Linked DNA regions of Homo sapiens. The protein of the gene in region 1 purifies or fractionates together with the protein of each later gene. This does not show direct contact. Each region holds a gene or a part of one and is shown in the gene's direction. Other genes may lie near its edges.

Region 1 (4,293 bases):
AGACAGCTGTAGACTGGGAGAAAATATTTTCAAACCTGAAGGAGTTTTATCCACAGTATATAAAGAACTGTCAAAACTCAATAATAAATTCAGTTAGAAAACAGGAAAAAGCTTGGACACCTCATTTAGGAAGATCTGGATGGAAAATAAACATAAGAAAAGTTTCTCAACATTTTTAGTTAGTAGAGAAATAAATGCAAATTAAAATCACAAGGAGATACCACTTTAAACATTTATACATGAATGTTTAAACTTAAAAACACAAACCATATCAAATGATGGTGAGGATATAGAGCAACTAGAACTCTGAAACCCGCTGGTGGGAATATAAAATAGTACAACTGTGTAAAACTATGCGGCAATTTTTTAAGCACATATACAATTCTATGACTTGGCCATTCCACTCCTAGGTACTAACCCATGAGATATGAAAACATATGTCCATACAAAGACTTGCACACAATAGCAGCTTTATTTGAAACAATTCAAAACTGGAAGCAGTCCAAACACCTATTAAAAGGTAGATAAACAAATTGTGTTATATTCATGCAGTGGAATAGTAACAGCAATAAAACCCAACAAACTCTTGACACATAGGACGAAATTTATCAATCAAAATAATTATGCTATTGGAAAGAAGCTAGATTAAATGTTCATACTGTATGATTCTATTATCGTAAAATTCTAGAAAATGCAAACTAATATATGGTGACAGAAAGCAGAACGGGAGCTGGGAGGAGTCAGGTATTACAACCGGGCATGAGGAAACTTTGAGGTGATGGAAAAGTTTATCTTAATTGTGGAGGTGATTTCAACAGTGTATACATATGTTCACCCTTAACAAATTATGCACTTTTGATATCTGCAGTTTATTGTACTTTAACCTTCAAGCTGTTAAAAATTAACCGGAGATAATTTTCAATTGTTGTGTAAGGTTTGCCACAAAGTGTAATATCTGCAAAGAAGCAGACAACTAATTTTTTCTTCTTAAGATTGTGGAAAAAGTTGTAATACTACAGAGAGCTGTGGAATCTAAGGATTAGTTGACCAACGCTTGTAAAGCTACCAATCTGAAAAACACATTTTCAGTTACCAAAGTTATTTTCTCTCTTCCATCGTGTAAATAGAATGTCGGGGTTCTTCTAATTTGGGTGTTTCTAAAATTTAAATCCACGTGAACAGATTAGGAAAGACCACGAAATCCTACGTCACCTCTAAAGTCACAGCTTGAAGCCTTGCGAAAGGAACTGGCCCTAGACCCCACCCCGGCCTATAAATCACCAGGGCGCAGCCTCAGTGCCTGGGGGTCGGCAGCAGCCAGCGTCAGGCGGCTCCCGCACGCTTCTTCCTAGGCGGCAGGCCGTGGCTGCCACGTGACTCCCGCTAACACCGGATGATGGCGCAGCGCTGTGCACGCAGGCGCAGTGTGGGGCCCTTGCGGTCGAAGCTCACGCGGTAAGCCGCTGCACGTGTGCTACGGCGGGCGGAGGGCCGAAAGTCCAGTATGTGGGTCCAGGGTCACTCTTCTAGAGCTTCCGCAACGGAAAGTGTGAGGTCAGTAGTAGTTTTTGTGGTACGTGCAGTGGTGGCCGCTTCAAGGACTATTTTCGTCGCTGCTTGCGTTTTAAGTCTCCAATCCTGGGACGAGGCCCATTTCAGGGTTTTCTGTCACCTTCTAGCCGCCCGCCACCCCAGAGGGGTGCCAGATGCCCCAGTTTTTGAGTGCATGCAGGCAGGCGAAAGTGGCTCGAAAAGACCTCCGGCCTGAATGATCTCCATGAAGACGCGGTCACGCAGCCTCCACACTCTCTTCCCCTTCTCGAAAATTCTGTGCCATTTAAGTTTCAAAATCCCTTATAAAATAAGTGTCAGAGAGCTACGTGTACCCGTTTCTTCCAAATTTTCATCACGAAGTGGAGATTTGGACGTACTATTTTGTGATCTCTGTTTGCAGAAAGTGGGTACGGCATCAGTGCCTTCATAATCAGGGCAAGTCATTTTAAAATAAGATTTAAAAACTACTCTAGAAGTAGCTTCTTGGAGTGTGTGGAGAGATTTCCAAAGTAATTTTAACTTTTACTGAATTTAAGCCTTAATGCTTTCCGTGGGAATATATAGTCTCCCTAAAAGTTATTACAGCTTTTCAGTCAGTTGAATTTAAAAACTGCTTTTTGACCAGTAGAAAAGAACCCTTGCTTTGGAGACATTTTCATGCCACTTACGAAAAATTTTTTTAAAAAATTAAGTTGTGACAAAGTAATCCATTTTTAAAATTTTATTTTTCTGTGATGAGGAGTTAATGTTTTCCTTTTCATAATGAGAGAGCATTTGAAACTTTAGTATAGTGGTGTTCCTAGACAACTTTTAAAGCTCTTAAAAAATTGCGGTGGCTTAGGCCTGTAATCCCGGCACTTTGAGAGGCCGAGGTGGGCAAATCACAAGGTCAGGAGTTCAAGACCAGCCTGGCCAACATGGTGAAACCCCGTCTCTACTAAAAATACAAAAATTAGCTGGACGTGGTGTCACGCGCCGGTAATCTCAGCTACTTGGGAGGGTGAGGCAGGAGAATTGCTTGAACCCGGGGGGTGGAGGTTGCAGTGAGCTAAGATCTCCAGCCTGAGCGACAGAGCAAGACTTCGTTTGGGGGGAAAAAAAAAAAAACCCATAAAAAATCTGTGTTTTAATTTTCCTTCAACACTTATGAATGGAAAGTGCAGTATTTTAGTATATTACAGATAAAATTACATAGTGTACATTTATTTTGGAATATTTTTGCATTTGATAAAGTATAATATTATGTAATTAAAATTATTTTTGAAGTAATAGGCAAAATTTTAGGTATTTTTGCAGTCTTTAATCCCACGGAATCTTCAAAAATAGTAACCACCGTGCCTTTTACATAAAATAGACTACCAGTTTAAAGCATTTGTTCTATTACTTGTAATGTTTCTCTTTGTTTACATTGTGGAAGTCCTTTTTATGGGAGGATATTTTCTAAAAAAAGAATATGTACATTGTTTCAAAGTATTGATTTATGTAAGTGATCAAAATGTATATGAGTTCAGTATAAGTTTGTAAAAGTTTGGCTAGAGATAATTTTAAGGATAGAGATTATATATGATAAAATTGCATCTACTACAAAATACTCAAAAGAATTAGTTAGTGAAGGAAATATTGAGCTCATTTTTAATATAGAGTTTGAATTTTGATAACTGCATTTAGGACAAAACATTTGTAAGAATTGAACATGATGTAGTTTAGTCTTCATTCATTATTAATGGTGGATTATTGTAATCTAATTTAAGGTATTGTTCTAGTTTTTCAGGAATTGTTCAAATGGATGAAGATACACATTACGATAAAGGTACTGACACTAAAAATTATTTTGGGGTGTAAGAGCTAGATGATACTGATTAATTTCTAATTTTCCTTGTATTGTGATTTGATTTTAGTGGAAGATGTGGTTGGAAGTCACATAGAAGATGCAGTAACATTTTGGGCCCAGGTAAATAGCAAACTGGTTGATATCCCCCCTCACCTCCCCCAATCCAGTTCCTCCCCAACAAAAACAAAAATAAAACCCAGGAATAAATACATTTGTCATTCTCATTGCCTAATATTTATTGAATTATTTATCACCAGGCATTATTAGGAGACAAATGTTGACAGCTGTGATGTTACTTGACTCATTATGAGTCAAGTGTTATGCCCATAATACACCAAGTTTGAAAAAAGAAAATTGGCAAGATTGTGATTTCAGAATTCCACTCAATTCTAGGCTGCTTTTGCTGGATTCTGAGAGCCTGTTGTATTTGTGAAGTTATAGCCCCATCTAGGGGTCTTTTATAAGATTGTTTCTTGAAGGAGGATAAGTTAAAAATCTCGGTCGTTTTTTCTAATGGCTTAAATTTGAGATGTGGTATTTTTCTCATTATAGAATTGGAAGCATGAATGAAACATTTCTGATTTTCTGTTGGGAGGGTGTCAGTTAGGTAAGGTTACTCAGTTTTAAATACAAAGCAAGCACTGAAGGGCTGTGTTCCACAATTTAAGAAGGTAAATTCCTCTGATGCACAGAACGACCTGCTAATTTTTGGTTTTGTAAACTATACATGATACGGAAGGGAAAGAAATTACGTTTCTCTATACTCCCTACAGCATGGGAACTCCTTTTGGTGGGGGGTGAGGTGAACTCGTAATGTGGGAAATAAGGAGAATATATGAGAAGAAAGTTCTAGAAGAATATGATTAACCCAGAGTTCTTAAATATATAGTCATGCATCACTTAATGAC
Region 2 (3,821 bases), on another chromosome or scaffold:
CTTGTTCAGTTCTTAAGTTTCGGTTTTTTTTAAAAACAGGATGCAACTTAAACTTTTCTTTGCATCAAGGTATATGCAAAACATTGGTGCCGTGCATCACCAAATGAAAGTTTGTATTTAACGAGGAGGTGCTTTACACTGTACTTTTTGGTGTTTTTTGGAAAAGTTACATTTAGATCTATTCTGAAGCTGTTCATTTTTAACAAATAAAATGTTACAGGTTTCACATGATTTATTCTCAGCTCTAAAGATTGAGTTGTGGTTTTTAGATTGTTCTATGTTACGAAGAACTTTGTAGTGGTTATCTATATTTGTAGTTTTTAGGGTGTGAAACCTTATCTACTAGCAAAATTGGTAAATCACTGTAGACTCTTCTATTAGCATCCCTCTCTCTTTTGATGATTTCATTTGTAGCTCCAACAAATGAATCTAAAAAGAAGAATCCAGGCTGGGCACGGTGGCTCATGCCTGTAATCCCAGAACTTGGGGAGGCCAAGGCGGGCGGATCATGAGGCCAGGAGCAAGACCAGCCTGGCTAACATAGGGAGACTCTATCTTTACTAAAAATACAGACATTAGCTGGTGTGGTGACATGTGCCTGTGGTCCCAGCTACTTGGGAGGCTGAGGCGGGAGAATTGCTTGAATCCAGGAAGCAGAGATTGCAGTGAGCCGAGACCACGCCATTGCACTCCAGCCTGGGTGACAGAGTGACACTCTGTCTTAAAAAAACAAAAAAAAAGAATCCAGTATACTTTGCAATGCAGAATATTGGGTTAGATGAGCCTTTAGAGACTAATCCAGTTTAACCCCTCCTTTTTACACCTTAGTAAAGTGAGTCCTAGTGTTTTCAAGACTTGCATGTGGCAGAGTTATTTTTTGAGCTCAGATCTTCTAATTCTTAATTGATAATAAACTGCTTTGGTGAATTAACACCCACAGAAAATAGTGGAATGGTGTGTGGTTTTCAAATACCTAAGAATTGGTAATAGCCATGCTTTAGCATTTTTAGCATGGTAAGTAAATCTATTCTACCAGTGATGGTTATACTTTATTACTTTGCTATTTGGGTTAGGTAGACCTGTTAGAAAAGTCCAGTGTTCCTAATCAGATATGCATTTTTTAAAAACAGGCATAAACTCTTCACCACAATTTTAATTACAGTCATCCCTCAGTATACACGGAGGATTGGTTCCAGGACCCTTGTATATACCCAACCCTGCGCAATACTGAAGTCCCACATCTGTGTAAACGAAAAGTTGGCCCACTGTGTACATGGATTTTCCATTCCAAGATGTTTTTTTGGTTCAAAACAATTTGCTTATAAGTAGACCCAGGTAATTCAAAGCCATGTTGTTGAAGGGCCAACTGTTTAAGCCAATCGTAAAATACTGTGTCTGAGGAAACAGGCCTCATTGCTCAGCAGTGAGTTTTTATTAGACTAGGTATGTATATCATTATTAATATTTTACTGTAAATAGCTTTGTAATTCACACAAAGTATACGGGCCCAGCAGGCCTCATTGCTCAGCAGTGAGTTTTTATTAGACTAGGTATGTATATCATTATTAATATTTTACTGTAAATAGCTTTGTAATTCACACAAAGTATACGGGCCCAGAATAATTTTTGTTGATTTATTTTTACTATAAGGAGATAAGAGAAAAAATAGCTCACTTGGCAGCACAGAAAATGAATACCATATTGGCAATATTAAAGCAGAAAATAATTCATTTCTGATCAGTAGTGCTTTCAGTTTTCATCAGAATTATTATTATTATTATTATTTTGCCACTGTGAAAAAGCAGTTAAGCATGTAAAACTTCCCTTTAGAGAGGGTTCTTTTTGGATAGATCAATTTGGAACTAGCTTCTTTTTTTTTTTTTTAAATGATACTTCAGTAAACACAGCATTTACAACAAGAATTGTGGACTATGGTGGACCATTAATAGGGATTTAAAGATTTACTTAGAAATTGTAGACTTCTAATATCTTTTATTTCCCTTCTCACCACAGTTTATTTTCTTTTTTCTTTTTCTTTTTTTTTTTTTCTTTTTTTTCTTTTTTTGAGATGGAGTTTCACTCTTGTTGCCCAGGTTGGAGTGCAATGGTGCGATCTCGGCTCACCCCAACCTCCGCCTCCCGGGTTCAAGCAATTCTCCTGCCTCAGCCTCCCAAGTGGCTGGGATTACAGGTGCCCACCACCATGCCCAGTTAATTTTGCATTTTTAGTAGAGACGGGGTTTCTCCATGTTGGTCAGGCTGGTCTCAAACTCCTGACTTCAGGTGATCTGCCTGCCTCGGCCTCCCAAAGTGCTGGGATTACAGGTGTGAGCCACCGCACCCAGCCTACAGCTTATTTTCTACCTATGTTTAACAGGAAGCTTGATAACACAAGCAAATGTGATGCCATTCTGGGACTGAAATGTCGTCTTATGAGTGTATTCAGATGAGGTATACCAGTGTTTAAAGATTAGTTGGAAGTTATTCTCCTAGTGTGCATATTTAATTTCTACTTACTCCATTTCCCTTTAATGAGAAAAGAATCATATTGTCTGAATTTTCCTGTATAAAGTTTAAAAAAGTTAATTATTAGGACTTGTTTTTAAAGGAGTAAGCAATGGAAGGATCAAACATTTATTAAATATATTCAGCAAATATTTAGAATTAAATGTATTCAGCAAGGAAGAGAATGGGATTCATACTGCTTGGAGTTTATAAAAGCGGAGTTTTTTTATTTTTTGAGACGGAATACTCTGTCACCCAGGCTGCAGTGCAGTGGCACAATCTCGGCTCACTGCAGCCTCTGCCTCCCAGGATCCTTTCCGGGTTCAAGCAATTCTTGTCCCTCAGCCTCGTAAGTAGGTGGGATTACAAGCTTGAGCCACCACAGCCAACTAATTTTTGTGTTTTTAGTAGAAATGAGTTTTCACCATGTTGGCCAGGCTGGTCTCGAACTCCTACCCTCAGGAGATCTGCCTGCCTCAGCTTCCCAAAGTGCTGGGATTACAGGTGTGAGCCACCACGCCCGCCCTAAAAGTGGATTCTTTTTTTTTTTTTTTTTTTTGGAGACAGTCTTGCTCTGTTGCCCAGGCTGGAGTGCAGTAGTGATCTTGGCTCACTGCAGCCTCTGCCTCCCGGGTTCAAGCGATTTTCCTGTCTCAACCTTCCAAGTATCTGGGATTACAGGCACGTGCCACTACACCCAGCTAATTTTTGTACTAAGACGAGGTTTCACCATATTGGCCAGTCTAGTCTCAAACTCCTGACCTCAGGTGATATGCCCGCCTCTGACTCCCAAAGTGCTGGGATTACAGGCATGAGCTACGGAGCCCGGCCTAGAAGTGGAGTCTTAGAAGGAGTGACCATGATATGTTTCTACTGAGTAGAAGGGGGAAGGGAGGACATAACCTTTGCATGATATAGTGAAATGCAGAGCTGGAAAGAACTATTAAGATTTGAGTGAAACTTTTGCCCCCTGTGTTGAATGAGTTAACTTTCAGTCTGTAAAATAAACAGGAAGAACTGGGAAGTACACTGTATCAATTGCTAACACTGAATAACCTGCGCTGCCTGTTTTTTCAGCTTCTGCTCCCAGACCACAGACCAGTGGTGGAAGAAGTTACAGATCCCTGTAAGCCACTTTGCTCCTGGCCTTTGTACAACTATCTTTCATCATTTCTTTTATTCATCATTAGACTCTTTGGTGAACTCCCCACAAAGACTCCATTTCCTATATCTCTTTCTCATAAGACGCTGTCACCTACTTTATGGAGATGACTGAGAGAGTAGGGTAAGAATTCCCTCATAGTCTACCTTTACTT

Evidence for each region.
Region 2: the proteins of STK31 (region 1) and FYTTD1 purify together in Homo sapiens (affinity purification with mass spectrometry; one large-scale study listed by BioGRID and IntAct). This does not show direct contact.

What each region holds. Positions count from the first base shown.
Region 1 is NC_000007.14:23,708,782-23,713,074, forward strand, and holds the start of STK31 (serine/threonine-protein kinase 31), read left to right. Parts: upstream 1-1,455; 5' UTR 1,456-1,504; coding exon 1,505-1,554; exon of another isoform or gene 1,555-1,989; intron 1,990-3,317; coding exon 3,318-3,364; intron 3,365-3,452; coding exon 3,453-3,505; intron 3,506-4,293.
Region 2 is NC_000003.12:197,784,068-197,787,888, forward strand, and holds the end of FYTTD1 (UAP56-interacting factor), read left to right. Parts: 3' UTR 1-3,529; downstream 3,530-3,821. UniProt on the Homo sapiens protein: Required for mRNA export from the nucleus to the cytoplasm. Acts as an adapter that uses the DDX39B/UAP56-NFX1 pathway to ensure efficient mRNA export and delivering to the nuclear pore.